Linked DNA regions of Homo sapiens. The protein of the gene in region 3 purifies or fractionates together with the protein of the main gene of each other region. This does not show direct contact. Each region holds a gene or a part of one and is shown on either strand. Other genes may lie near its edges. The genes, in order: PCDH20, FAT3, PPIAL4G and VPS13A.

Region 1 (8,362 bases), on a different chromosome or scaffold from region 3:
GAGAAGGAAGAATGTGAAATTAAAATGAGTTGAAAATGACTTTTAAAATTTATTTTCAGGATAAGGAGGAAAAGTTGAAAATGTTAGCTAAAATTAGGCCTGGGGTTTTCTAATGACTTCACACAGTTATTTTTATCCCTGTTAAAGTGATGCTAATTGAGTTCTGAAATGAAAGGACCCTTCCATCCTATCTTATTCTTTCCTATTGGAATATATAGGGAAAGAGGAGAAATGTACAATCTATTTACACAAAGTTTTCTAAAACATAAAAAAGAGTCATCAGGACGGAATAATGCTTACAAAGGTCCCATGTATAAGTTGCACAGTACAGCAGTAAATGTTTTAGAATACAAGTTTTATAGTAAATTAGCTCATTTGGACCTTCTTCTTGCAAGTGTGTAAATGTATGTTTATTTACTGAATTAACTGTCCAGCTTTTTTAGCAAAAGGCCTCACTGCTGATTCCCTGTTAGTCTCACTATTAATTTCTGAATCGTGTAGGGAAATGAAGTAGGATTTTTTCAGTTTGTGTGATATACTTAAAAAATAATTAGTACTTCAGTAGTTACTTAAAAATATTTGTAAATATTTGTAAATTTGAACAATGAATAAAATAAAATAAAGTTTAGAGTAACTCTTAAAATCAAGGCTTTTGATCTTAACCGTAGATGGTTTAAAAAATATACTGTTTTTACAGGTTATCCTCTAATATCAGAGCAATTGTGAGGTTAAAATCTAGTACTATTATAAGAAATGGGAGTATTTTCATAATTTGAGTCAGCTATAAGTCATCTTTCTTACTGTCACCTAGCATGTAAAATGAGGGCTAACTAGGTGATCCCTAAAATTATCCAAAGCTTTTCAGTACTTTCAAGTATACACACAGCTATACACACATTATATATTTTACATGTATACATTGGGAGATTTAAGTTAGCCACACAGCTTAGACAAGTTATATCCATGTGTATGTATCTATTTACGAAGTAGTAATGGACTAAAGAATCCTTTCCTTCGAAAAGGCATCATATAACACATCTATGCCTCCAATTTTTTTTATTTTAAATGAGTGATAAATGTTTGTTGAATAGAAATACATTTAAATGTGTGTGGGCCCTTTATTTTCCCATTCTGATGAGAAAGGCATACCAGAGTAGAAAGATCACATATTTTGAAGGTCACAGATCAGGCTCTGGACTAGCATGTTATGTATGGCTATAAAGCTGGTATAATAATAACTATATTATAAAACTGCTGTGAGGATTAACTAAATTACATATGTCAACCACCTAGTAGCATGTTTGAAACATAATTGACACTAGGTAACCAATCTATCATTTCTCAGGTATTTTATTGGTTTTTCAAATGTAATCATCCTTTTAACCTTGATGATTGAATCAAAAAAGAATACAGATATAATATTTCATTGTATATATATTTATTATATGTTATATTTATATGTGGTATATTTTACACTTTTACATATGTACCTATATATTAATAATATATTTTGTGTACACATGTACATATATTTTAATTCATCAAAAGGGACTTCTAATTTTAAAAATTCTATTAAGACAAAGAGAAATGGCCTTAAAATAAGGTAATATTCTAAACTTATATTTATTTGCAATTATGAATTAACCAGAACATGTACACGGTTATGGTTCAAGATAGTTTTAAATATCTGTGTATATAGTGATTACATGAAACTTTGTGTATACCACAATATTATTAAACTAATCTAAATAGTGGAAATAGATTTAATTGAGAAATACAAATAAAACTACCTGTAAAGCATAGTGCTTCAAAAATTTTTTTTAAAGATTTAAAACGTAAAAAGTTTACAGATGGTATCTTTTTTCCTCATCTTTTTTTTTTTTGAGATGGAGTCTCGCTCGCTCAGTAGCCCAGGCTGGAGTGCAGTGGTGCGATCTCGGCTCACTGCAAGCTCTGCCTCCCGGGTTCACACCATTCTCGTGCCTCAGCCTCCAGAGTAGCTGGGACTACAGGCGCACGCTGCCACGCCCCGGCTAGTTTGTTTGTTTGTTTTTTGTATTTTTAGTAGAGATGGGGTTTCACCATGTTGCCCAGGCTGGTCTTGAACTCCTGAGCTCAGACCATCCGCCCACCTCAGCCTCCCAAAGTGCTAGGATTTCAGGCGTGAGCCACCGCGCCCAGGCAAAGATGGTATCTTGATATATACTTATAATCTTGCTCACATCTTTGTAGTGGAGATAATAAAATTACAAAAAGAAGGCTTGCAGTAAATGAAAAATAGTATGTTTTAGTGATAGAATGCAATAAGTAATAATCAAGTTAACCCGTGTATCAGCATGCAGTGTCTGTTAATGCCAGATATGAGGTAAGCAATTTCATGCATATACGTGCATGAAGTGTGTAGGGGTCTTTTTTTATGAAATTGAAACAGAGAAGTTTGATGACTTGTCTAAAGTCACACAGAACTTAGCAACAACCCAGAGAATGTAATCCACTCCTCTGGCTCAGCTCAGTGCACCGTCTATTGTATCCTGCTGTTTTCCTTGTCTATAGGAAAAATAGGCTTGGGAGGCATATAATCTAACTATTCTTCTAGATCGATTTTTACAAAACATGTGGGAAGCAGGCCCAGAGCAATTGAGACGTCTAAGAAGTTCATAAGTATTATTTTCAAGGGACTAATAGCATAGAAGCTTTCTGAGTCATCGTTAGAAATATGTGACACCAGAAGGTAGGTCGCAGGCTGGCATCATAAGGAATAAGAGTTTGGGAATGCTTTCACAAGGCCCAGAGAAGGGATACATGGGAAGAAAGATGTCTATTTAGTCCTTTTTATTTTATTTAAGCCCAATTAGGGTATAAACATTGTGTAAAACCTTTGGATTTTCAGAGAGGAAAGATAATAACAAGTAGTTCAGTGAATGGTTTGAAATGCGACGTGGAAGGTATTGTTCAATATTATGCCAAGATCTCCCAATCTTGATGACAAACTTCCATGCAGGGACTTTGCAATCACCGTAGTCACTTAAAGCAAATGTGGTTGTTAGTGTCGTTCCAAACATTATTTTCAAGATGTGTTCAATACTAGTGTTTCAACTTACATGAAGAACTTTTGCTATAATTCATGTTTATGGTTTTTAGAAACACTCTAGAGAATAATTATGGCCAAATGGGTATATTTAATTTCTTTTCAACTTAATAAAGGGAGGTGTGGTAATAACCCTTTCCACAGAGACCAGCTGGGTGATAGGGTCAGAAGACGAAGATTCTGCTGGTGTAGGCTGGGGGAAACACTTTAAAAAGGAAGTGCATCTGTACTACAAGCAACCACTGCAAAGTAGGGAAAGGGAGAGTAAGGGGCCAGGGAAAAGTAAAAACTTGAGATATAATTACAAAGAGAAAATGTCACTTCACCTGGACTATCATCATAAACAACAGCTCCTGTACAATGTCCTTATAACAAAGGAAAAATGAAGAAAATAGCTCCCTACGTTTCCACCAAAAAGGTGGATGATCTTAACTTGTTGCAGAGGGCATGAGCTGTGAGCGGATAAACAGCCCACTCTGCTGCTCTGTCTCTGGGGGAGAATTGTTGCAGACTGCAGGTTCTCTGACTGCTGACAGATTGCCTAACTCTGGCCGTGGGCCTCCAACTTCGGGAAGCTGTGGGTATTGTATAAAGATGTAAGTTAAACACGTTTCAGAAGCAGCTTGGTACTGATTTGGGGAGTCAAGTATGTTTCAACTACAGACCTCAAAGTAAATATTTACTAATATGGCAAAAGTTCAGCTGTAGGGCAGAACCAGCAGCTAAAAAGCACAAGGAGGGAGATCATGCTTCCCTGGCTGCAGCTTGTTTACCAACCTTCAACTCAGATGTGCATGTTCCTTTGAGTGTGTGTGTGGGGTGGGGAGGAGGTGGAGTGGGAGAGGGGTAGGGGGGTGAGGGGTGGGGTGATGGTGATTGGGGGCTGAGGTTTACCACTTCATCAGTGCTCCATTTTCACTGTAAAGGGTTTGAAGGAACTGATTTTACCAGCCAGGTTCAAATTGTATGCCAAATTTGTATTATAGAGAGACTTGTGAACTCCATGTACAGCCCCATTTGCACAATAACAAGCTGTTACCCTCCAGGTGTTTTGATGTAGTGTGTTGTCCATATTTAGGACTCTGTGTTTAGGATTATTAGAAATGAGGAGAAAATAGGAAGGATAGGAAGCAAAACAGTTAGCTCAGCCAAGCAATTTATATTCTAGTTAGCATTTGGTGGAAGGGGAAAATTGAAGTAGTTCCTACAGAAAGCATATGGAAATCAGGTATCAAAGACCTTTTTTCACTCTAGGCTCAGTCACTGGTCATTCAGCATGTGAGGTTTTATGTTCAGGACCCTGCAGAGGATATCTGGAAGCCTAGCGATGAAGAGAAATGTCTTCTCAAGGAAAGGCCGAATCATGGGCTTTTCCATTACTTACATGGCAACCTGCAGATCAAAAAGTGTTTCAGAGGCTTAATGCACTGGAGTATCCCACTAGCCTTGATTTTATAAATGAGGAAACAGAAGGCCAGGAGTTAGGTGACTCCAGGTTACATAGCTATTCAGTGTCAAAGCCATAGAAGATAGGCAATCATTTGGCACCACACTCTTCCACAATTCCTTTATGAAGGACCAGTTTTCCAGTAGGCAATCCAGGAGAAAGAAAGAGAGAGAGAAAGGGAGAGAGGCAGGGAAAGAGGGAGAGAGTGAGGGAGCGAGGGAGCTAGGGAGTAAGGGAGGGAGGGAGGAAGGAAGGAAGAAAGGAAGGGGGGAAGGGGAAGAGGGGAAGGGGAAGGAAGGAAAGGAAGGAAGGAGGAAAGGGGGAGGGAAAGAAGGGGGAAGGAAAGAAGGAAGCAGGGAAGAGGAAAGAAGGGAAGGGGGAAGGGGAAAGAGGGGAGGGGGGGAGAGAAGGAAGGAAGGAAACAAGGAAGGAAGGACTAATTTGAAAAATAACCAATGTTTTACCTAGGCTTCAGTGAATACCTCCCCCTCCCCACACCAATTTACCGCTTAGATAAATATGTTTAAGATTACTTGCAGGCAGAACTACTTGTGTTACAGCACAATTGTTTCTACTTTCCCCTTGGCTCTTCCCCGCATCCAGAAGCCACTACTGCCTCTAAAATAAGACCACAAGGCAAACACCCAGAGACATTTGAGCCTCCAACTAGGAAACTAGCAGAAGCTCTACCACTGCCCACAGCAAAGATTCAAAATTGGGGTATGTCGAAACCTTCACTGAATTCATATATTTACTTTTCCGGTTCACCCTACGTTACACAGAAGTTGAGATTCCTTCCCTCCGCTGAGAAAAGTGCATTTTCTTTCTCTGTGCCAACACTGCTGGATCCGAGGCTCCAGGAGGAACTGTTGGCAAAGCAGGCGTTTTGGGACCGCGCCTGTGATTGCTCTGTGGCGCCGACTTCCTCTCTCTGTTACATCCATATACAAATGCAAGCTTATTTATTTATTTTAATTCTCCCTCTCTTGCTAGCAACCTGTGGACTTGGCATCTGACTGGTGCGGCAAGGAAGGAGGCTGGTAGGTAAGCGCTACTGTGCCCAACCCCGAGCTGCCTCTTCGCAGTCTTCAGGAGCAAGTCCCCCATTCCAGCTCCTCTGGCAGAGTATGGAGTTACCTGCGTCCGGGGCAGGAAACCATGAATGTGCCCTTCTGCCCTCTTGCCTTTCTGCCACTCTTTGAGTTCCCGTCCTTAATTGAAGAGCCAGTGACTATTGGCTGAAGTTCCCCCAGCGATTTGCATGAACCGAGAGGGAGTGTCTTCTGCCGCCCTCCCTTCAAGAGCGCTCTGACTGCAGCCTCCCAGGGAATGCGCGGCCGAGGGAATGCGCGCAGCTCACAGGCCCTGGGAGTGAGCTGGTGCCCGGCGACCTGGCACCCGCGCCTGGATATGGGGCGTCTACATCGTCCCAGGAGCAGCACCAGCTACAGGAACCTGCCGGTAAGGGTTAGGGTCAAGGAACCCCGCGACCCCGACAAGTTGCAGTATTGTGAAGCAATTCCCACTCGGATGGTTTTTCAAACCTTCTACCTTTATCTAAACTTCACGGGAAGGATGGCGCCGGGAGGGAAAGGGAGTTTGGGATAATGTGTCTTCCTTTTAACAAGGAATAGGGAAGTCCGTGGGTCATGAGAGGAAGTTTCTGAAGCAAGAAATGTATCCAGATAAGGTCGAGGGCATCGGGGGTGCGCTCAATCCGCTTTAGCTACAGGGGTTCGGGATCGTTTCCTGCTGCTGGCGTCTGGCTATGAATGCCTACTGCAATTGACAAATTGTTTTTGCATAGCCATTTTCCGCGTTTACTTTGCTTCCCCCTAAGGGAGGGGGATTAGTGACTGCTTGGTAAGGGGTGGAAATCCAGATCCTTTCGGTTTGATTTCAGATGTGTGCTAAAATAAAAATCACTCTTTCCGACCTAAGACCTAAAGTGTTGGAGGTGGAGGAGGAAGTGTTGGTATTTTTTCTATATTATTATTATTATTGCGATTGTGGTTGTTTTTATGGTTCTCTTAGTAAGGGATGTAACACACTGCGTGTTCCAGCACTCTAATGGCAGAATCACTTCAAGGAGAAATAAATTGCCCACCTTTCAGTGCTCTCTACTACCAGCCCCCTCCCTCCCCATCACCTACCCTGGGTTTCCGTGTCGCTTTGCGCAGTCTCTGAGTCGGAATCCTCTCCACTCCGGTGTGTGTTTCCAGGGATGTTTTACGGTTTGGGATTCTGAATGTTAGCTGGATGAGGGTGGTGATGGGGAAACGAGGGGGGAAGGCGGGGGCGGAGGGGATAGAAAGTGAACAGCAAAATTAAGTTTTGGAGACGATATTGCCCCACAGATCTCTCCTTCGCAGCAGGGTTCTTCTCCGCCCCCGTTCTAATTAGAGGTTTTGCTTCTGGGAACGGGGATGGGGACAGCAAGGATCACAGGGGCGCTAGTTTCTCTCTCGGACCCCTATTTCCCCGTGTGTGTAATGAGCTTTCTTCCCTCCCCCAACTCCAGCATCTGTTTCTGTTTTTCCTCTTCGTGGGACCCTTCAGCTGCCTCGGGAGTTACAGCCGGGCCACCGAGCTTCTGTACAGCCTAAACGAGGGACTACCCGCGGGGGTGCTCATCGGCAGCCTGGCCGAGGACCTGCGGCTGCTGCCCAGGTCTGCAGGGAGGCCGGACCCGCAGTCGCAGCTGCCAGAGCGCACCGGTGCTGAGTGGAACCCCCCTCTCTCCTTCAGCCTGGCCTCCCGGGGACTGAGTGGCCAGTACGTGACCCTAGACAACCGCTCTGGGGAGCTGCACACTTCAGCTCAGGAGATCGACAGGGAGGCCCTGTGTGTTGAAGGGGGTGGAGGGACTGCGTGGAGCGGCAGCGTTTCCATCTCCTCCTCTCCTTCTGACTCTTGTCTTTTGCTGCTGGATGTGCTTGTCCTGCCTCAGGAATACTTCAGGTTTGTGAAGGTGAAGATCGCCATCAGAGACATCAATGACAACGCCCCGCAGTTCCCTGTTTCCCAGATCTCGGTGTGGGTCCCGGAAAATGCACCTGTAAACACCCGACTGGCCATAGAGCATCCTGCTGTGGACCCAGATGTAGGCATTAATGGGGTACAGACCTATCGCTTACTGGACTACCATGGTATGTTCACCCTGGACGTGGAGGAGAATGAGAATGGGGAGCGCACCCCCTACCTAATTGTCATGGGTGCTTTGGACAGGGAAACCCAGGACCAGTATGTGAGCATCATCATAGCTGAGGATGGTGGGTCTCCACCACTTTTGGGCAGTGCCACTCTCACCATTGGCATCAGTGACATTAATGACAATTGCCCTCTCTTCACAGACTCACAAATCAATGTCACTGTGTATGGGAATGCTACAGTGGGCACCCCAATTGCAGCTGTCCAGGCTGTGGATAAAGACTTGGGGACCAATGCTCAAATTACTTATTCTTACAGTCAGAAAGTTCCACAAGCATCTAAGGATTTATTTCACCTGGATGAAAACACTGGAGTCATTAAACTTTTCAGTAAGATTGGAGGAAGTGTTCTGGAGTCCCACAAGCTCACCATCCTTGCTAATGGACCAGGCTGCATCCCTGCTGTAATCACTGCTCTTGTGTCCATTATTAAAGTTATTTTCAGACCCCCTGAAATTGTCCCTCGTTACATAGCAAACGAGATAGATGGTGTGGTTTATCTGAAAGAACTGGAACCCGTTAACACTCCCATTGCGTTTTTCACCATAAGAGATCCAGAAGGTAAATACAAGGTTAACTGCTACCTGGATGGTGAAGGGCCGTTTAGGTTATCACCTT
Region 2 (7,937 bases), on a different chromosome or scaffold from region 3:
CTGGTCAACAAACCCTGGCTGTGAAAATCCTGCAGCCACAAGAGATGGAGCCAGCCCAGCAGCTGACTGATTTCTGATCTCTGAGCCAGCTGCCTTTCATGTGGAGTTCTCTGTGTGATTCAGATGATATGAAGACATTATAACTGGACAGTTCTGGGAACTTTCTCATCCCAGTGCACTGTGCACAGAAACTGGCCCCAGCATCACTCATTGTTCAAGTTCCAAAAAGGCAACAACTGAGATTCATGATTGAATATCAACATTCGGTTTAATTCTAAGAGACAACTTTTCTCCTTGTAAAATGTTAAAAAAAAAATAAAAAAAACTTCCCCCACTCCAACCCTATTAAATAAGAAGCACATCAAAGTGCTAAAGTTATTATGCTTTTTTTTTGTCTTTGTCTCTTAGAGCCCTGGTTTCCTTGGCTGTTCCTTATTCTCTCACTGTTCAATTGCTCCAATTTAGGAATAAAGAAAAAAAAAAAAAAGAAGAAGAAAGAAAAAAAGCAGAAGCAGTTGGCTTTGTGCAATTTCTAGGATTCTGAAGAATCTCAGTCTCTCAAATCTCTTCTCTCTTCTCTCCTCCATCCCCTCCTCCCTTCCTTTCCTTCTCAGATTCAAATCTCCACGTCACACCAGAACATCATTCAAGCATTCAGTAAATGTGAAGAGAAGTTCAGTGTCTGCTGGTGGAGAAGAAATCTGGGCTCTGTTTGATCGATACTGAGATGTGGGCACCTCGGTCCTCAATTCCTAGATGGCGGGCTTCCCCTTTCCACCACCTGAGTTTGCCGCCTGGATCCAGGCAAAGTCGTCTGCAGTCTTTCTGGCCGCTTCTCTGTCTCTCTGCTTTTATTTTAACTTAGCCTGGGCACAATCAGAGAATCTAATCCTAGCAACAAAGCCAGGAGCACAAATCCACCGTGATGAACTGGTAGGCCTGCTCCCCCGCCCCTTCCTCCCACTACCCCGGACTCGCCTTTGAAAAGACTAGCGTCGGGGCCAGAAAATTAATATGTCCGAGGCAAGTGGGAGAAAAGCGGCAGAAAACAAGTGGCCACGAGTGGTTTGGGTTTTGTTGCTGTTCATGTGTATCTTTTAAACATTAAGGACCCACGCACAGGAACCCCAGCCGCTCAAGCCCCGGGTGGGCGCGTCGCACCTCCCCAGGCACTGCCCAGACAGCTCGCCCCCTCCCCCTGGGCGCCCTCCCTAGTCTGGCTGGGGCCGGGGCGGGTTGGGGGAGGTTCTCGCGGGTTTGTCTGACACTTGTAAATGGAAGTGGGATCCAACTTGGAAAACAAACGCGCCAGAGTCTGGGGGCGGAGAGGAGCGGGAGGAGGGGAGAGGGGGGAAAAAGACTTCAATCATTACCGCGGTCCCAGCGTCCCTCCCTCCCGCCGCGGCTGCTGCAGGTTCGCCCAAACCCGAAGCTGAGTCCCATTGGGCGCGCGGCGGCGGCGGGATGGAGCTGGAGCTCCCGGCCGAGGCGCTAGGAGTCCACCAGATTCCGCGTGCCAGAGCCACCGGCCGCCCACGCTCCGGGCCGCAGGCGCCACTCCCTCCCGGGAGCCCCTCCTAGTCCTTCACGGAGACCTCGCAGGGTCTCCGCAGCCTCCCCGCCCCCGACGTCCATTCCGGGGACCCCTCTCCACCGCCTGGTTTGAGCCCATTATTCCAGCGAGCTGCAGCCTCAGGATGTCACCGCCAGCACACCCACACCCCGGGAGCACCCCTGTTCCTCTCATCCCGAGCAACCCAAGCGGCTCTCTTAGCTCGCAGCCAAACTCCGGCCACCCCTGCATCCTTGCCCCAAGCACGCCCCCGCCACCCCCCGCCCACAAGAGGAGAACGGTGGAAAGTGAATAAAAGTTGCTTTCCGCAAAGCCCAATCATGTTCAATGTTAAACCATCTCGGAAAGCACATGTGACAAAAGTCAACGAGAGAGGAGAGGAGGGAATTCAGATCACAGCACAGCTAAAAATATCCGGGCTCGCCATCATGCAAGCCGGGGGGCCAGATGCACTTTAGCTCAGCGACTCCCACTGGCGGAATCCTCGCGCTCACCGCGCGCCGCGCCAAGATGGTCCAGGCCACCTCTACTGCCTCCCCGCCAGCGCCCCTCAGCCCCCTACACTTGCCCTGCACACACACTGGCCTGTAGAGGGGATTCGTCCCGAACCGCCCGGGAGTGGGGCCTGAGCTCGGAGCTGGTGCCCCTGGCGTTCTCGCCCCCAATCCGGAGACAGCTCCTCCGCACTCCTGGGGATGGTCAGACCCGCGCTGCTTTCTTTTCAAAGACAAGCAGCCTTCCCACACGCCCGCCAAAAATCATGCACTCTCGCAAAGCATTCCGGTTCCCTCTCCTTGTCAAGATAGCAGGGACAGTCTCTGTCCCCAACCACTCCGTAAAGGATGTCGTCCCCAGTCGAAGAGCCGCCGCCGCCGTTCACTACATCTCACCCTGACCACAAGCCCCGCAAGCCCGAGTCAGGCGTGGGGAACGGACCCGCAGACTGGTAACCCTTTCCCTTTCCTAGCGAAAGTGGAGGCTGGGCTCCCTCTCTGCGCCGCGCCTCGCCTAGCGATGACCCAACTTGCACCTCGGGGTCCCCTAAGTGCATCATCCATCGGCATCTGAACATCCCCCACTGCGCCCGAGAGGCACCGGCTGCCAAGCAGGCTCGCCACCTGAACCTTCTCATCCACCTGCAGGGGCGGCTGGGAGCCGGGGATGGGTGCACTGATCCGCAACCCCCCTCGCAACCCCTCCCCAGATCCTCAGCCCCAAACTTGGCCAACTCTCCGTGTAAACCTCCCGGCTCCCGCCGCGGGGCCAAGCCACCCTCTTCTCCTGTTTGCAGCGGTAGCAACGGCGGCTCGGGGCTGCGCGGAGGTTGGAACTTTACAAGGTGAAAAGTTTCCCCCACGCGCTTCGTCGGCTCTCGCCTCCCCAGCCCACCTCGCAGCCCATTTGCACCCAGCAGCTGAGGCTGTGCTCCGGCAGGCGCGCTCCAGTCGGTGCACCAGGCAGCCAAATCATCACGCTACAAATCCCCACGCACCCTTGCCTCCGCTGGCGATCCACGGCTCTACGAGGCGCCTCCCCCGTGGTCTTCTTCACCCGGTGCTCGGCGCTCTTGCTCCGGGCGAGCCGGTCCCCCGGCTGCTGCCGCCGCAGCGCCCACCGCGCGCTAGCCGGGACTGAGGCCGCGAGCAGAAGCGCTCTGCGCTCGGGACGCCGCCGCCGCCGCCGCCGGGGGTTCGCAAGCGGAGGAGGGGAGCCGAGATGAAGAGAACAGCAGCGGGAGGAGAGGGACGGGAGGCGCGAGATCCCAATCCGCAGGCCAGTTCACAGCGCAGCCTGCGGGGAGGAGCGCCGGCTCTCCTGTCTGCTCCGAGCTGCAGCCGCCGCCGCTACTGCTCGCCGCCTGGCTGCTCCGGGCTCCCCATCACAGCCGACGCCGACGCACGGCCAAGCCCCTCTCCAGTCTCCCCCTCGCGCTTGTCTCTCGCAGTCTCCTCCTCCCAAACCGCGAGCGAAAAGGGCGAGGGGGAGAGGAGCCTCGGCGGCGGGGATGACTAGCGATCTAGGAGCGTGGCGCAGGGGAGAGGGGGCGCGCGGGAGGGGGCGGCGGAGGAGGCGCGGCGAACTGGAGGGCATTCCCGGCGCCGGGCCTGGAAGCGGCTAATTTTAGAGCTCGAGTCTTCCCTCAGCCCTCTGGGGCTCTAGGATGACACCAACGTACTTTCCTGCCGCGGGGAGAGCGTGGTGCTTGCTGGCTTGGGAGAGCTTTCGCACAGTGCATTGAGTCTCACCCGCACCACATCCCTGTGAAGACAGAGAACGCGTTACTCTCCTGGGACAAAGAGGAAACTGAGGCACATCGAGGTTAACATGGTTTATATAACGTCCCAAGGCTAGTTTGTAGTGTGAAGATTAAACCATCAAATGTCGTGCCTCTGGACTAAAAATGTGCCTCCCAGTGAGGGCTCCTACGACTTTCCTAAACATTGAGATCCTGGGGTCATCCGATTGCCTTGTGGAGGAGGGAACTAGACTAAGCAGCTAACGTGGTCCAATCTCTTCACTCTTCCTCTGCCCCCAATATGTTTTAAACATTTTTTTGTCTTAATGGAGGACAGGGACTCTGAAGGGGTGGATGATTGATTTGGAGCTTGATGATTGCATCTCCACCCTGTCAGCCCTCCTGGTCACTTCTGCAGCACCCACCCAAGTCCTAGGACCCCCTGACTGCACGCCCTCCGTTCTCACACTGCCCCGGTGGAGAGGGGACTCCACTCGTTCCCTGCTCTGTGTATCCTCACACTTTTGCCTTTCTTTTCCCCCCAGCAAAGAAGCAGCCTTAACCCTCTCCACTCGCCACCTACACACACACACACACACACACACACACACACACACACACACAGAGAGAGAGAGAGAGAGAGAGAGGAGAGAGAGAGCTCAACTCACATATGTCTCTAAGGCAAGCACAGCTGGCGCATTTCCTCCTATGCTCTCTATCGGGAACTTTCTCCCCAACTCTACCATTGGCACCAGGAGAAAGGGACCCCAGGACTGCAGATCTCTTCCCCAGAGGAAATCGTTACTTTTTTTTGAAACACGAAATTCTCTTTGGAGGGCGAAGTAGGGCTGCTTCTAGAGGGCTATGTGCTCAATCACTAGAGCAAGCGCTTTAAAATGCCGATTGAGTTTACCTTTCTGGCCTTCGCGCTCCCAGCCTGGGACCTCTGCCCTGTTCACAGTTACACAAAGGCCTCGCCACGCCCCACGGGTGGAAAGTTCCCCTTGAAAGCCTCCAGCAGCCTCGCTGCCTTGACTGCCACATAAAGCACCCGGCATGCTCTGGTCATTCCGCCCTGAGATTTTAATGTGAATACTAAGGAACGGTGACAGCTCCTCATACATCAGCTAATTCGGGGGTAATAAGCATGATGTTACCAAGGGCTTCATTGTCACGGAAGGCCAGAAGATAGGTCTGGAGTGAAGGAAACCACTAACAGAGCTAGGAAAACTTACCTGCTCTCCAAAATGTTAGCATCTGATTAATTTTATTCTGATTTTAGTTTTATTCAGCAACTTTCTAAGGCACTAAAAGTTTATTGTCATATAAATATGTCCCTGGCATGGCATTTTCCTTGTGACAGAATGCAGCTAACTTTGCATCAAAGGTTTTAAAGAATCAAGGTATTTCCCACCTGAGTGCCTGGCTCCTGCAACCAGGCACTTTGGGTAGAGTCGGCTGGTGGTGGTTTGGCCACTGGGATGCTCAAGGAAGGAGTGCTGGCAAGGAGGCCAGGCATCTTCTACCTTCTGCCTGGGAAGACTGCCAGGTGATTGGAGGAGTGGCCACTTCTGCTGCTGGTGTAGCTCCTGGATTTCAGCTTCCCCAAATGTTCTTTAATGCCTCAGAGGTGCCTTAGAGATAAGTAGAGAAATCTGTCTAAATTTCAGCCTCCCCATCCCTAGGCAGTACATACATAATAAAGTAAACAGTCTCTACTCCCAGGGCTGACATAAGCCATTATAGCCTGTGGGTAAGAGACTTCCTGCAAAAATAGTAGAGTGGTTTATCTAATGGGACACTCCTCTGGTCATTTTAGATTTGCATAGCATTTACTATTCATTGTGCTAATAATTCTGATTGTATAAGGGGACTGTATTTTTTTTTTTAAAGTGCCAGCCAGACACAGTGGCTCATGCCTGGAATCCTAGCACTTTGGGAGGCCAAGTCTGGATGACCACTTGGGGTCAGGAGTTCAAGACCAGCCTAGGCAACATATCAAGACTCCACCTCCTCAAAAATTAAAATTAGGCCAGTGTAGTGTCTACATATAGTGTCTCATGTCTTTAGACTCAGCTACTTGGGAGGCTGAAGCAGGAGAATCACTTGAGCCCAGGAGTTTCAGGTTACAGTGAGCTATGATTGCCGCATTACACTCCAGCATGGCTGATGGATTAAGACTCTTTCTTTAAAAAAAGGTGATGTGGCTCGGGGGAGGGGTGCCACTGTGTCACTACAGTGGAAGGCATAGAGTTGATAAAACAGTGAGCTTTATGAAAGTCAAGAATCTGTCATATTTACATTTCTATCCCTGCATAAAGCCTGGCACACTCAATAAATATTAGTACATATTCAATAAATATTCAAATAATTAACAAATGGTGAAAACTTGGGAATTTTTTTATCAGACCCAATGATTATTGTATGTAGGACATTGAAGTCCTCATAGGAAAGGAACCTATAAAAAATTGCAGATCTATAATAAAATCATATTACTTGCCATGTATCACAGCCTCCATACACCACTTCAGATCATCTGGGCCTTACCTGTTGCTTTTAGCCACCACAGGAACAGCCAGTTCTAAGTGGGCTCTAACCAGCTTCACACAGGTATAATCTGAAAGTGCTTTGCTCTGGGCTCCCCTTGCATCTTACCCCCACCCAGGGCTTTTTAGTTGAAGTTACAATGTGAACCAAAACCTAGAAGCATGAGAGATTAAAGAGCCTATGGTGGGAGCCCATGGATAAATACTCCTCTTTCCATCTGCAAGGAAAGGATTCAGAAATGTGTTCCATGGAGCTTCTCTGGTGGTCTTTGCTAAACAAAGCAGCCATTCTCCTGAAGCAATGGCCAGCTTGATAACACATCCTTGTACTGGCGCTCCATCCTTCCCTGGTTCTCCCCATCTGTTCCTCACATGCTTCCTGGGATCACACTTCCCAAATAAAATATTTTCAGCAAGTCCTTGTATCATGCTCTATTTTCTGGCAATCTCAGGCTAAAACACCTACGACTAATGCTAAATACTTACGTCAAGGGACGGCCAAATGATTTTTCAAACTGCCCTATGAGGATTTTACTTTTAAACAAACGTGTACCCAAGGACACCTGTGTTGGGGACCTGTTGTACAACTAGAAGTTTTCTGAATCAATTTCAACTTAGACTGCAAGGTTTATTAAAAAGTAAGTAATTAAAATATGCTAATTTTGAATTTACATATATGTAATTAAAACTCAAAACAGTAACTACAGGAATTTTTTAGAACTTAGACCAAAATGATCTTGTTACAGAGGAATATTTTATCACTGACATTTTTTAGAATTGCAACTACAAAGTAATACTAAAAAAAAAGACTGATTTTCTTTTTAAATTCTCTACAGATAGTGCTCCCACCCACCCGTTTGCCTGCTTGCTGTGCAGATCTCTCCTACTGGCCCACCCTTGGTATACCACTAATTGTACTTGCAGGTGGCCTTCTTTGCCACTCAACTATCCTAAGGCTGATCAATTTCAATCCCTCTTATTTTGGAACAGCAACCAAACCAAACTTGGACACACTGAGGTACTCTATTTTCGGCAAGCAAATTGTCCTACTAACTGTCTTTATCCTTTGGGAAACTCCTTCTATGCCCCTGTTTTGGCTACTGCTTTCTTCTCTTTGGCTAGACAGAGAATAAACGTAATGTCAGAGACTCATTTTTAACACATCTATAATTCTATGTTCTTTAGGCCACTCCTTTTTCTCTTTCTTACTCATTTGTTCATTCACTCACCCATTCATCTGTTCAAAAATTATTTTTGAGCAGCTGTGTACTTGGCTCTCTTTTAAGTGTCGGGGATGTAATGATTAGCAAAAACTGATGAGATATCTACCCTTATAGATCTTTGGGCCAGTGGAGAAGTCATTAATCAAATGATCAAACAAAGAAAAGCAAAAGTGAGAAGGGCTACAACTGCATGATTCAAGTGGTTTAGTTAGCACCACTGCCGTTCCAATGAGGGGGAATTTTTATTCATCTCTCTAATTTATTTACAAGCTAAAGTTCAACACGAACAATGACTAATGAGCATAAAGGATATTTAGTGTTACACCTGTTATATGTTTTGACATAATGTTATAAATAAG
Region 3 (6,086 bases):
CTAAGATGGTTTGGATTATATTTAAATATTCTTGAATGAAATAGACTTACTGACTGAAGCCAATTATTATATTTTTCCACACCAAAATAAATGCAATAGGAAAAGATGACAGTTCTATGTAGTATTCCTGCTTCCATATTGCACAAATTAGAAACATACATATTCTATTATGTTACAGGGTCTAGGGCTTTGGGAGGACAAGGCTGCAGGCAGCCGAGATTGTGCCGCTGCACTCCATCCTGGGCGACAGAGTGAGACCTTTTCTCAATAATAATAATAAAAGTAAAAAGAAATATAATATTTAATCAATATATGCACACACATGGGTTTATCATGACACACATGACATGTGTGTACAGTGAAAAAAATGAGTAAATCTAGAAACCTGTATTGCCTCAATAGCTAGCTAAGTACTTCAATATGCATGTTTATTTCAACAATTTTGTGTTAAGCTTCAGTGGTAAATAAGCAGAGTACACTGACCATAATGAATACTTCTTTTGATGAGGGTTATCACTACACAATTAAAATATTACATAGTTGCCTGGGCACGTTGGCTCACACCTATAATCCCAGCACTTTGGGAGGCCGAGGCAGGCAGATCACCTGAGGATGGGAGTTCAATACCAGCCTGACTAACATGGAGAAACCCCTTCTCTATTAAAAATACAAAATTAACCAGGCGTGGTGGCACATGCCTGTAATCCCAGCTACTCAGGACGCTGAGGCAGGAGAATCACTTGAACCTGGGAGGCAGAGGTTGTGGTGAGCCGAGATAGCGCCATTGCACTCCAGCCTGGGCAACAAAAGCAAAACTCCGTCTCAAAAAAATATATAATAATAAATATATATATATATTATATATAATCAATATAAATATAATATATAATAAATATATAATATGTATTATACATATAATAAATATATATATTATATATAATAAATATATAGATGATATAGTTTAGAGTTAAATACTGACTGCTCTTGGGAACTTTGAGGTATTCTGAGGGATATAAATAACACGAAGAGAATAGCACATTGGCTTGAAGCAGATTAGAGTCTGCTACCTGCGTGAATACTTGCTTTTCATGAACTATGAGGATGCCCTTAGCTTTTGAACCACTTCTACTTGTGTTGAAATTTACCCTTTAATTTTGGGGTTTGACAGGCTCTGCCCTTCTGTTATGCTTGAGTCTGGCTTTTCCTACTCTGACTCACTTTGATTCTTGACCTCTGAATCTTATTCCTATTTTACAATAAACACACATCGCACATACGCCAATTAGTAGAGTGGAAGAGGGAAAAATTGCCAAGGAACTATGTTTAATTTTGTTCCTTTCGCAAACCAGACACCATAACAGAAAAATTTTAGGAACATGTGCATGTTCAGTAGCCTTCAATGCAATTATACTGGTTATTAAAAAGTGTTGGATAATCAATATTTTTTAAAGATTCACTAGTCCCTTCTGATAATTTTAGAACTTTGGGAAGTAATAATACAAATGTATTTTTAGCTGTGTCCTTTAATCTTTTACTGTTTCCTCTATGTGTGGTGTTTGGTTTGTGTGTGTGTGATAATTATTATAAAGATCAGAAGCTAACAGAGGTGTTAATCATGAACTTTTACATTTTTTTATTTTTATTTTTTTATTTTTTTTAAGAGACAGAGTCTCGCGGTGTTGCCAAGGCTGGATGCAGTGGCGCCAACTCAGCTCACTGCAACCTTCGCCTTCAGGGTTCAAGCAATTCTGCTGCCTCAGCCTCCCAAGTAGCTGGGACTGCAGGAGGGCACCACGATGCCCCACTAATTTTTGTATTTTTAGTAGAGATGGGGTTTCACCATATTGGCCAGGCTGGTCTTGAACTCCTGACCTCATGATCCGCCCACCTCAGCTTCCCTAAGTGCTGGGATTACAGGCGTGAGCCACCGCGTCTGGCTGCATGACCTTTTAACTTGTCTCATACACTCAATATTCTCAAGATATACCTTCCAAAGTGCAAAATTATGGCACTTTGCAGCCCTGACCACTAACTGAGAACTTTGATGCTTTGGATTTTGGAGACCTCATTTTATCACCTGGGCCTTTTACTTCATGACTTGTCATGCTGCCACATTTTGATGGGATTGAGATCAAGATAATAATTCCCAACTGGTCAGGAATATTGTGCCCCTTTGTTTTTATATCCAGATGCAATAGAGCCTCTGACACACCACTACTATTGTTCTTAGGATTTGGAACAAAATGCTTCTTTCTTTGACAAAATAAATGTTTTCTTTAAAGAACTCTTGATTGATCCTGGACCATTGTAGAAACTGAAGTCCTATCAATGCAAAAAAAATATGAAAACATGAGCTGCTTATCATGAAATAAGTGTTTTCCAATTAACTATCCTGCTTCATCAGCAGGTAGGAATAATAGAATCTATACCTATGTCTTCATGGGAAGTTCTCTATGGCCAGTTGATTAGTGAGGGAAAAATTGAGCCTGATTTACAGAAGTCACTGTACAACATCACAGCAGCAGCCAAAAGTAGATTGCTTAGGCATTATAACCTACGTGAATGCAATTTTAAAAGAAATTCAGCCTATGTAATTGGTTGTCCACGATGTCTAGAAGGAGAGATATTATTGATGTATATGTGGCAGCTAATAATTTGTCTAGATAATTAGGGACTTGGGGCCAGGCCTGATGGCTCACACCTGTAATCCCAGAACTTTTGGAGGACAAGACAGGTGGATTGTCTGAGGTCAGGAGTTCGAAACCAGCCTGGCTGACATGGTGAAACTCCGTCTCTACTAAAAATACAAAAATTAGCCAGATGTGGTGGTGTGTGCCTGCAATCCTAGCTATTTGGGAGGCTGAGGCAGGAGAATCTCTTGAATCCAGTAGGAAGAAGTTGCAGTGAACCAAGATTGCACCACTGCACTCCAGCCTGGGCAACAAAGCGAAACTCTGTCTCAAAAAAAAAAAAAAAAAAAAGAAAAGAAAAGATAATTAGGGACTCAGAAAGACAAAGACTGAAGGATTGGTGGCAATGAGTTTTGGGGAAAAAGTATGTAGATGAACCACAGAAAATGAGCCAGAGTGTAAGAATATTTGTGCTTAATACGAATGCTCACCAAACTATCATCAGGAAGGTTATCAAATAGATATGAAGGTATGAAACAATCTCTTTCACCAGGCACTACATTGCTTGCTCAGAAGGCTAATAAACAGCAACATTGGTGGTAGCAGTAGAGAATACACATAGGTTTAGCAACATGTTGGACTTTACCACTCTCGCTTACAAAAGCCTATTTAGCTGTCAAGACTATTAGGTGTCCAACACACAAGCAACAAAGTCCAAGGCTAAGCACACAATAACATATCCTGGGTGAATAAACCAGTCACCTTTTGTCAGACTTGTTGATTTTATTGGAGCTCCTCTATGATAAAGGCAACAAGGAATTTTGTAAATGGAATCTACCTTTATCCTTGAATTACATTTGCTTTACCTGACATCATTTTTCTCTGATCGCCACTCTCCACGGGTACATTGAATGCCTTATATATACTGCCATAATATCCTGTTCTACATCCTTCTATTAAAAGAACTTGTTGTATAACAAATGAGTAGATATTCATTGGACTCACCTGGTCCACCATTTATCCTATCACTAACCAAAATTATTATTATTATAGAATGGTGAATATTTTATTAAAGACTCAATCACAGTGCCAGCTGGAGACAATGGCTTATAAGGTTGTACTCATGCTAGAGGATGTGGTGGTGTATCCTCTGAACTAGTAACTAAGTATAAGCTTGTCTGGTGTCTCCCATATAAAAAATACAACAATCTTTGATATTTGTTATGAATGTTGAAGTGACTCCTTTTGTCATTACATCTAATGATCCACTCCAAATACTTATCTCTTGTCTCTGAGATTCTAGGTTTTTGCAGAATTAGTACCCAAAGGGAGAGTCTTAGCAGTATTCCATTTTACAATCCATCCTTCGTTAGAGGATGAGAGACTTCTATCTAGCCTTTTAGGTTGCCTGAGACCTTTAAAGAAACAGTCAAAAATTTAAAATTTAAAATGCGGCTACACTGTTGCATGGGGTAGTAAATCTTGACCTTAAAACTGGTATTTGTAAGAAAAACAGAAAGAATTCAGGGATCCCCTTTGATGGCTCCTAATTCTATACAGTCCTGTAAATATTCCTGAAGACTAACCAGGCGTGGTGGTGCACACCTGTAATCCCAGCTACTCCAGAGGCTGAGGAAGAGAATCACTTGAACCTGGGAGGCAGAGGTTGCAATGAGCTGAGATTGTGCCACTTCACTCCAGCCTGGGTGACAGAGCAAGACTCTGTCTCAAAAAAAAAAAAAAAAAAAAAGAAGAAAGAAAGAAAGAAAGAAAGAAAGAAAGAAAGAAAGAAAGAAAGAAAGAAAGAAATGAAGACTGCCACAACTTGGAAGCAACCAAGATGTCCTTCAATGAGTGACTGCATAAGCAAACTGTGGTATATTCCTACAGTGGAATATTATTCAGTGCTAAAAGGAAAAAACTATCAAGCCACAAAAAGATACAGAAAAAACAAAGACATTTTGCTAAGTGAAAGAAGCCAGTCTGAAAAGGGTACATACTGTGATTTCAACTATACGACATTCTAGAAAAGGCCAAACTATAAAGACAGTAAAAAGATCAGTGGTTATCTTTGCAGACGCCGCCATCGCTGTGAGCCCTGTACTATCAGCCATGGTCAACTCCGTCATCTTTTTTGACATCACCGTCGACGGCAAGCCCTTGGGCCGCATCTCCATCAAACAGTTTGCAGACAAGATTCCAAAGACAGCAGAAAACTTTCGTGCTCTGAGCACTGGAGAGAAAGGATTTCGTTATAAGGGTTCCTGCTTTCACAGAATTATTCCAGGGTTTATGTGTCAGGGTGGTGACTTCACACACCCTAATGGCACCGGTGACAAGTCCATCTATGGGGAGAAATTTGATGATGAGAACCTCATCCGAAAGCATACAGGTTCTGGCATCTTGTCCATGGCAAATGCTGGACCCAACACAAATGGTTCCCAGTTTTTCATCTGCACTGCCAAGACTGAGTGGTTGGATGGCAAGCATGTGGCCTTTGGCAAGGTGAAAGAACGTGTGAATATTGTGGAAGCCATGGAGCACTTTGGGTACAGGAATAGCAAGACCAGCAAGAAGATCACCATTGCTGACTGTGGACAATTCTAATGAGTTTGACTTGTGTTTTATTTTCACCACCAGACCCATTCCTTCTGTAGCTCAGGAGAGCACCCCTCCACCACATTTGCTTGCAATATCCTAGAATCTTTGTGCTCTTGCTGCAGTTCCCTTTGGGTTCCATGTTTTCCTTGTTCCCTTCCATGCCTAGCTGGATTGCAGAGTTAAGTTTATGATTATGAAATAAAAACTAAGTAACAACAACAACAACAAAAAAGCTCAGTGGTTGCCAGGAGTTTGGGGATGGGTAGGGAGATAAATAGTTCTGAAACAGGCGATTTTTAGGGGATTGAAAATACGTTGGTAATAATGTAATGATGGGTACATGACATTATGCGTTTTGCAAAACTCCTAGACCTGTACCACACAAAGAGTGAACCCTAATGTAAACTGGGGGTGGGATAAAGGTGACAGTATGTGAGAACTCTGTACTTTCTGCTCGATCTTTCCATAAAGCTAAAACTGCTCAAAAAATAAAGTCTATTATTTTGTTAAATGAAAGAAATTAACAATGACCATGGCACGCTCACACAAAAAGATTATCAAGGACATTTCTCTGTCAGGAATGAATATTTGGTCATCTCACAAGGCAAAACCCTGACTAGCAGAGGTGTTAGCTGAGGGCACATGGCCATAGATGCCAATAGTGACCTGCTGGCCACTTGCAGAAAGGAGAGCCTTGACATCCAAACACATTGTTTCTCTTGTATTGTCCTGTGCATACTTATGTATCTTAACAACTTTCCTTCTTTCCTCTCCATTTATCCCTCTTTTTAAAACAGGGCTTATTGAGGGTGATTAACTTAATTTTTAAATGATATATGGCAGAATGTCAAGAGA
Region 4 (8,393 bases), on a different chromosome or scaffold from region 3:
CTCAGCAAACCCTTCAAAAATTATTTTAAAAATAATTATACTTTGATAGAGAGTTGTTGCAAAAAAATCTATAGGGGGGGTCCCATATACCCTTCACCCCAGTTTTCCCCAATGGTGACATCTTATATAACTATAATGCAATATCACAATAAGAAAATAAAGATATTGGTACTATCCATGGAGATTATTCAGATTTCTCCACTTTTATATGCACTTACGTGTGTGTGTAGTTTAATGCAATTTTATATAACCACTGCCACAATCGAGATACAGAAGTGTGTCATAAACATAAGGCTCCTTCCTGCTATCCATATGTAGCCGCACCTATCCATCCTACTTATACTTAACCTTTGGCAACAACTAATTTGTTTTCCATCTCTATAAATTTGTTACTTCAAGAGTGTTTCACAAATATAATAATACATGTTTTCACTCGCATAATTCCCCTGAGATCCATCCAAGTTGTTGCATGTATCCATAGTTCACCTTTTTTTATTGCTGAGTATTCCACAGTGTGGATGTACCACAGTTTGTTTAAACATTCACCAGTTGAAAAAAATGTGGGCTGTTTCCAAGTTTTGGCTATTCATGTACAGGTTTTTGTGTGATCTATAAGGTTTCATTTTTCTGGGATAAATGTCCAGGAGTGCAATTGCTGGGTCATATAGTAAGTGCATGTTTAGTTCTTGTGGCAACTGCCAAATTGTTCTCCAGAGCGCTTAACTATTTCACAACCCCACCTCCAGTGAATAAATGATCCAGTTTCTCAGTATCCTAACCAGCCTTGGTATTGTCACTATTTTTTCCAACCATTCTGATAGATATAATATGATAAGATATTCTGATATCTCATTGTGGTTTTACTTTTCATTTCCCCAATGGCTAATGATGTTGCACATGTTTTCATGCGCTTGTTTCCATCTGTATATACTCTTCAGGAAATGTCTGCTCATGTCTTTTGGTAGGCTTTTGAGAGTTCACATCCATGTCTATCAATTATCCGATAAGGTTCAGAACCCGCTCACAGCAATTCATCAATGTGCATACATAGTTTTCCCAGAGAGTTATAAGATAACATACAACATAATAGCATTTCTGATACATCTTCTTCACCAGTTTAGAAGGGCAAAATAATACATGCTCACTACAAAAAAATTAAACTTGAAAGAACAGAAAAAATACACATTGCCAAAAGTCTCACCATATAGAGATAACCACTGTTAATATTTGGTGAGCATACTTCTAGATTTCTTTCTGTATGTAAATGCTCTGCACACTTAAAAACTCACCAATTTGTATAATTAGTGGGATACTATTCTGCACCTTGTTTCTCATGAGCATATATTATCGACATCCTTCCACACTAGTATAGACTTTCATTATCATCTTAATGCCTGTATAGTAACCCACTACGTGTGTATGTTTACTTAACCAGCTTCCCTGTTAATGGATATTTCGGTCGTTTCCATTTCTTTTTGCTATTATAAACAATGCTTTAAATAGTGTTCTTGGCTGGGCTTGGTGGCTCAAGCCTGTAATCCCAGCACTTTGGGAGGCCGAGATGGGTGGATCACTTGAGGTCAGGAGCTGGAGACCAGCCTGGCCAACATGGCGAAACCCTGTCTCTACTGAAAAATACAAAAATTAGCCGGGTGTGGTGGCACCCGACTGTAATGCCAGCTACTTGGAGGCTGAGGCAGGAGAATCGCTTAAACCCTCCTGGGAGCGGAGGGTGCAGTGAGCCAAGATCGCACCATTGCACTCCAGCCTGGGTGACAAGAGCGAGACTCTTTCTGAAAAAAAAAAAAAAAAAAAAAAAAAAAAAAAAAGTTCTTGTGGGAATAATTTTTTGGATTTTTATAATTATTTTCTTAGAGTAAATCTGTGGAAGTGGGATTGCTGAGTTCGTCATATACACATGTACGTATATATATGTATGTACGCTGATATATATACACATATGTACTATGTCAGTTTGTAAATGTTTAGGAACTGCCTTTTAGAAATATTGTGACAATTTACATTTTCCCCTGCCCTGCTTAAGTAAGATTCTTTTTTTTTTTTTTTCTGAGATGGAGTTTTGCTCTTGTTGCCCAGGCTGGAGTGCAATGGTGTGATCTTGGCTCACTGCAACCTCTGCCTCCTGGGTTCAAGCGATTCTCCTGCCTCAGCCTCCTGACTAGCTGGGATTACAGGTGTGTGCCACCATGCCTGGCTAATTTTTTTTTTTTTTTGTATTTTTAGTAGAGACGGGGTTTCGCCATGTTGACCAGGTTGGTCTCGAACTCCTGACTTCAGGTGATCCACCTGCCTCGGTCTCCCAAAGTGCTGGGATTACAGGCATGAGCCACTGTGCCTGGCCTTAAGTAAGATTCTTATAAGGTTTTTACCTTTTTGCTTGTATTCCCCTTCCAGTGAATTTTTCTCTTTTTATTAAGGATTGGAACACATGGTCTAAAGAATTTTTTTTTTTTTTTCACTGTGTCACCCAGGCTGGAATGCAGTGGCACCATCATAGTTTACTGCAGCCCCAAACTCCTGGGCTCAAGGGATCCTCTCACCCTTGGAGTAGCTGGGACTACAGGCATGTGCTACCATGCCAGGCTCCAAATAACTTTTTATTGTTTAAAATTTTTAAAGCATAAACAGATGGAGCACAGGGCTCTGTGAAGTTAGATCAGTAAAAGTCCCATACCTATAAAACGGCCATCTTCTACACTTGTTCCTCCAGGACATCTTCTGCTTCAACAGCTTTGTGGTCTGCTTCAACAGCTTTGTTATCTGGCCATCTAGCCTGCTACCACAATGCCCATGGGGAATGATAAGGACAAGCAGCCCACCAATGACATTTACTTGTGGACAAAAGAATTAAGATTAGGAGAAAAAAAAATTCCAAGATTACTACCAGTACACCAAAACTTTAAAGACGAAGAGCTGTGGCATGGAAGGTATACATAAAACTGCAAGTCCTACTTGCAAAGTTAGAGATTTATTGTAAAGTTAGATGATATTGCAGTTTGGGGTCATTCAGATGCTCTCCCCCTCTTTTGTTTTTCCATTTGATCAAACAATGAAGTATAGCATTTTAATTGTGATCTAGAGAAAGAATAACATACACTGACATACTTCCTAATTTGAAACTCGAGTTTTTATGGTAGTCATTGGGCTTATTTTTCAAGGTACAACAGAAATTTGGTTTAATGGTTTAATGAGCATACCTTTTACATGATGATGTTAATATATTTTTGCTTACAAACTTCCTTAGATGGATTAAGCAATGCAAAGACTGAATGCAAAATGTTGTCTTTTAGTATTTACAAAGCATGTTCATATACATCTAACACTAGATAAGAATTCGGTTACAATATGCATCCACTTATTTCTAACTCTTCCTCAGCAGAATTTTTTTTCATTGCTTTATGCTTATACCTCTAACTTTTCAGCAACATCCCTTCCCCTTCCTCACTTCCACAAAATTTTCCTAGATCGTAGAAAACTAATATGAAAACGTTTGCAAGATACTTAAGATGGATTTTTGGAGTTCTGGAAATTCTTGTAACTTTGAATTTGCAGCGCTAGATATAACAGCGGAATTTTGCAGCTACTGTGTATCTGGCTTCTTATTAATAGTGCAATGGCAAAATGCCTCATTATGTAGAGCTCTTCCCCTTCCTAGGCATTTTAGCCTCTATTCGTTTCTCCGTGCAGGTATTCTGAAGCAGACTGTTAGCTGAATGAGAGAGAAGCAGGTGGGGTGGTAGCCAATCAGAAGGGCCAAGTTCCAGTTCTTCCACAGAACATTGGTTGTATGACCTTGCACACATCCCTAACACTTCAGCTTCATTATATTTAAGACTAGGAGGTTGGAGACCTCATAAAGGTCCTTCAAATATAAAATTATATGAAAAACATTCATAAACTCAGGTAAAAACTTACAGTTTTTGTCAGGCATTCTACTTGCAAAGGCACACCCTAAACATTTAATTTTGAAAAGTCGGTGACTATGCACAAAAAGTAGTAAAATGACACAGGAATTAATAGAAATCCATCATTATTCATTTAACGTGTAAAGAGAAAACGCTCAATGTACACTTTTTCGGTCCTGCAGATGATTAATTACAGTTCTCTAAACCTCACATTTAGCATCTCTGTGACCTCAGGCCTTTGGGATTACTTCTAAGTAAGACCAAACAGGTCGAAAGATCTGTAATTGTAATTTATTTTAGGTCAGTGGTTCGGTGGAGGCATAGGGGTCAAGGGTCCAGCACTCCCAGTATTTCTTGGAGGGTGTTCAGCAGTTTCCAGACCGGCTGACTCCAACTCTTATCTGCAGGGAAGCGTGTTACTCTTTGGAATGAAAGACAGCTCCGTATAAATGACTTGACCAAAAATGGGTGCTCATCTCAGATGCAGGGCAGGGACTATGTAACTCCATCCTCGACTCGCAGCAGGAAGTTAACTCCTCCTGAGAGCCAGGCGGTCGGAGGACCAGGCGGGGAGGTTACAGGCACCAAGACACCCAGGCTGGCTGGACCCTCCCACCCTGTAATGATGAGGGGAGATGCTCCCTGGGACAGCCCCCTTGAAGCTTCTGGCGACGGGGCTGGGATCCGCCCACCCTTACTCAGGGGCGAGCCCTGTCATACGCGTGGAAGCGGCCACCACCTTCTAGGGGGAGGGGCGTTCCCGTCGGGCGTAACCGCCCCGCCCTGGGGGGCCGCTGGGGACGCTGATCTGCAGGAGGGGGCGGGGTCGGAAAAAATCCGGTAGCTCCAGACCGGTGTCCCGTTGCCAGGCGATGGGGAGGAGGCGGGGCCGACAGGAAAGAGGAGCCGGGCTCGGCGCGAAAAGGGCACCCTCCAGAGCCGCGGCCGCGCAGCCGCCTTTCCTCCCTCTCAGGGCTGCGCGCCCAGGTCTGCGCCGCGCTCCGCCTCCAGCCGCGCGCAGACTTGCGCACGCGTCGTGAGAGCGACCGCCTCCGTCTCTCGCTGGGCTCGCTAGGGCTGCGCGTTGGGCCAGCGGGGGCGCCGCAGCTGAAGCCGCCCCGGAGCCGGTGAACCGAATTACCTCGAGGGAGGGGCGTGGGGAAGGCGGCGGGAGGAGGAGCGCACGGGCCGGCTGCCGTGCCCACCACGGCTGAGGAACATGGTTTTCGAGTCGGTGGTCGTGGACGTGTTGAACCGGTTCTTGGGGGACTATGTGGTGGACTTGGACACGTCCCAGCTCTCTCTGGGCATCTGGAAAGGTAAGGAGGCCGCCGCCGCCGCTCCCCGGCCTCTCGTGCTTCCCGGCCGTCTCGCTGCCCGAGCGGCGTCCTGCGTTCTCGGGGCTTCGAGCACCTTGCTCGCCGGGTGCAGCCACCTGCCGCCGCCCGCCTGTGGGTCAAGTTACGTAAAGCCGGGCGGCAGTTCCCTGGCCTCCGCCCTCGAGTTGTTTATATTTTGGGGGAAAGGAGAGGGTCATGAGTGCGGGATGAAAAGGTCTATATTTTCCGAGCGGAGCGGACTTGCCGTGGGCTCCGTGGGTCTGGCGTTCAAGTCCCGGCGAGGGGCCGTTCTCTACCCCTGGCCCCGCACGGTCCGGCTTTAGCCGCGCGGGGCGAGGAGGCGAGACGACGCCTTCCTGGGCTGGGTCCCATCCCTGTCCTTTGCCCCCCTGGGTTTATGACGAAGGCCCCAGAAATCCCCCGCGTGTTGCATGCTGCCTCGCACGTGAAGGCAGGGCGCTGTGACCGGGGACGCCCGCTTCCTTGCTTCCCCAGCCTCAATTCCTGGCTTCACCCGTGGTGCTTTCTGCTCTCCCCCTTCCGGCCCTAGGACCCGGACGCCGGCTCTCTCTCGCCTGGGTTCGGCGGATAACAAAAAGGAAACTCAAGTGCAAAGTAACTCAAACAGTTGCTTGTGTGGTTGCAGTTAACAGCCTGACCTAGGAATGTGTAACATTTTCAAGACTTTAGGATATGTGGGTCAGAGTGAATTGCCGAATTTTAAAGAAAAACCAGGGCGTGCGGTGCAACGTCTCAGACCTGCAAAAGACCGGGCTGAACAGGGCCCTACGCTGCCTAGGTGGTGAAGGACCGAGCTTTCCTTGTGTCCGTTTAGTGTGGTATTCTGCCTTAGTGAGAGCCTCATTTTTAGTGTTTCCATCTGTTTTTGCATTATGCGCTTGTTTATTTTAAACACCCGCTAGAAATTAGACTCCTTTGTGAAATGAATTTCCCAGGCCAAAGTGAGGGTTAATTTTGTGTGTGAAGTGTGTGTGTTTAAATATATATTTAAAGTAATTTATTCTTGTCTGTGCACACACTTCCAGTCTTCTTCTAAAATACTTACCTTGACTCTTCTCGTTTATGAGATAATGTAAACAGGTAGTTTAGTTTGATTTTAAAGAATGTTACTACCGTGGGGACCTAGTATCATGATGGAGAGTGAGTGGACTACAAAAGCTAGGGATATAGTGATAGCTGCTCAGCCTGTTTGATTAGTACAAGAAACTTGCAGTCTGTTTATGCTGCTTCTTAGTTGCAAAGTGAAAATAAAATTTGTCTCCCATGTACCTCAGAAGGAAGCCTTAAGAATACTTGAGGTGAACTTTGATCTGTAGTGGAGTCTTGCTTCCACATTCAGGGTGGAGGTTTGTCTAGAGTGTGATTAATCAACTTATTTATTTGTTTAAAATTTACATGCAGTAAAATTCACTCTTGTGATACAGTTCTGTCTTGACAAATGCTAAGAGGCATGTATGCACCACCACAATAATGGCACATAAAAGGTTCATCAAGCCTCCCGAATTCTCTCAGCTGCTCCTTTGCAGTTGATCTCACCCCGCCACCACGCCCGGCTAATTTTTAGTAGAGAGGGGGTTTTGCAATGTTGGCCAGGCTGGTCTCAAACTCCTGACCTCAAGTAATCCGCCTGCCTCTGCCTCCCAAAGTGCTGGGATTACAGGCGTGAGCCACTGCGCCCGCCTGACTGTAAGTATTTATCTGTTTGCTGGTTGAAGAATATTTCAGTTTTTGGAGGTTATAAATAAAGCCGTCATAAACATTCACGTACGGGTGTTTGTGTGAACATAATTGTTATTTCTCTTGGATAAATACCTAAGAGTGGTTTTAAATTGGGTTGTACGTTTTTTTTTTTTTTTTGAGATTTATTTCATATACCATAAATTTCACTCTTTTAAAATGTACAATTCAGTGTTTTTTAGTATAGTCACAAAATTGTACAACCATCACCACTCTCTCATTCCGGAATATTTCAGCACCCCAAAATTAAATCGTATGTCCATTAGGAGTGACTCCCAATTTCCTCCCTTCTCACTACTCCACCTCTGGCAACCACTAATCTTTCTGTCTTTATGGATTTGGTAATTCTGGACATTTCATTTAAATGGAATTATATGATATGTGGCCTTTTGTTTCTGGCTTCTTTAACCTAATGTATTTTCAAGGTTCCTCCATGTTGAAGGATGTATGACTATTTCATTTGCTCTTAGGGTTGAATAATATTCCATTATATTCATAGACCACAATTTATTTATCTATACTCACCAGTTGCTGGATGTTTAGATTATTCCTAAACATCCACCTTTTGGATATTATGAATAATGCCACTGAACATTCATGTACAAGTTTTTTTGTGGATGTATGTTTTAAATTCTCTTGGATATATACCTAGAAGTGGAATTGCTGGGTCATATGCTGACTTTGTGTAACCTTTTGAGGAACAGCCAAACTCTTTTTCCAGAGTGTTTGTTTTCTTATGGTTGAGTTTTGAGAGTTCTTTAAATATTAAGGATACAATTTCTTCATCAGATATGTAATTTGAAAATACTTTCTCAGTCTTTTCCCATTTTGTCTTTTGCAGAGCATACATTTTTGATTTTGGGAAAAGCCCAGTTTATAAAACATTTCTTTTATGAATCATGGCTTTTGGTATTCATATCTAAGAAATCTTTTCCCAACCCAAAGTCAAAGATGTTCTCCTGTGTTTTCTTAAGGAAGTTTTGTAGTTTTAGGTTTTGGATTTCTTTTTGTATAAGGTGTGTGATATGTGTTGAAGGTTGAGGTTCATTTGTTTGCATGTGGATGCAAATATCCAATTGTTTAGCACCACTTGCTAAGAAAGAGGATCCTTTCTCTATTGAATTATCTTTGCATTTCGTAAAAAAAAAATCAGTAGACTTAATATTGTGTGGCTTTAGTCTGTCTCAATCTGTGTGTCTATCATTTCACCAATACTACACTGTCTTGATAACTGTGTCTTTGTAGTTAGTCTAGAAATCAGGTAATGTGATCCCTCTAACTTTAGTCTTTAACAAATAATTTAAAAAATAACAAGTCATTGTCCAGGTGTGGTGCTCATTCCTGTAATCCCAGCACTTTGGAAGGCTGA

Evidence for each region.
Region 1: the proteins of PPIAL4G (region 3) and PCDH20 purify together in Homo sapiens (affinity purification with mass spectrometry; 2 studies listed by BioGRID and IntAct, with this or other methods). This does not show direct contact.
Region 2: the proteins of PPIAL4G (region 3) and FAT3 purify together in Homo sapiens (affinity purification with mass spectrometry; 2 studies listed by BioGRID and IntAct, with this or other methods). This does not show direct contact.
Region 4: the proteins of PPIAL4G (region 3) and VPS13A purify together in Homo sapiens (affinity purification with mass spectrometry; 2 studies listed by BioGRID and IntAct, with this or other methods). This does not show direct contact.

Annotation. Positions count from the first base shown.
Region 1 is NC_000013.11:61,412,661-61,421,022, reverse strand, and holds the start of PCDH20 (protocadherin-20 precursor), read left to right. Parts: upstream 1-5,173; 5' UTR 5,174-5,864; coding exon 5,865-5,996; intron 5,997-7,056; coding exon 7,057-8,362. UniProt on the Homo sapiens protein: Potential calcium-dependent cell-adhesion protein.
Region 2 is NC_000011.10:92,220,303-92,228,239, reverse strand, and holds the start of FAT3 (protocadherin Fat 3 isoform 1 precursor), read right to left. Parts: upstream 3,423-7,937; 5' UTR 3,066-3,422; intron 1-3,065.
Region 3 is NC_000001.11:148,481,909-148,487,994, reverse strand, and holds PPIAL4G (peptidyl-prolyl cis-trans isomerase A-like 4G), read left to right. Parts: upstream 1-4,692; 5' UTR 4,693-4,742; coding exon 4,743-5,237; 3' UTR 5,238-5,447; downstream 5,448-6,086. UniProt on the Homo sapiens protein: PPIases accelerate the folding of proteins. It catalyzes the cis-trans isomerization of proline imidic peptide bonds in oligopeptides.
Region 4 is NC_000009.12:77,172,560-77,180,952, forward strand, and holds the start of VPS13A (intermembrane lipid transfer protein VPS13A), read left to right. Parts: upstream 1-4,974; 5' UTR 4,975-5,145; coding exon 5,146-5,245; exon of another isoform or gene 5,246-5,358; intron 5,359-8,393. UniProt on the Homo sapiens protein: Mediates the transfer of lipids between membranes at organelle contact sites. Binds phospholipids. Required for the formation or stabilization of ER-mitochondria contact sites which enable transfer of lipids between the ER and mitochondria.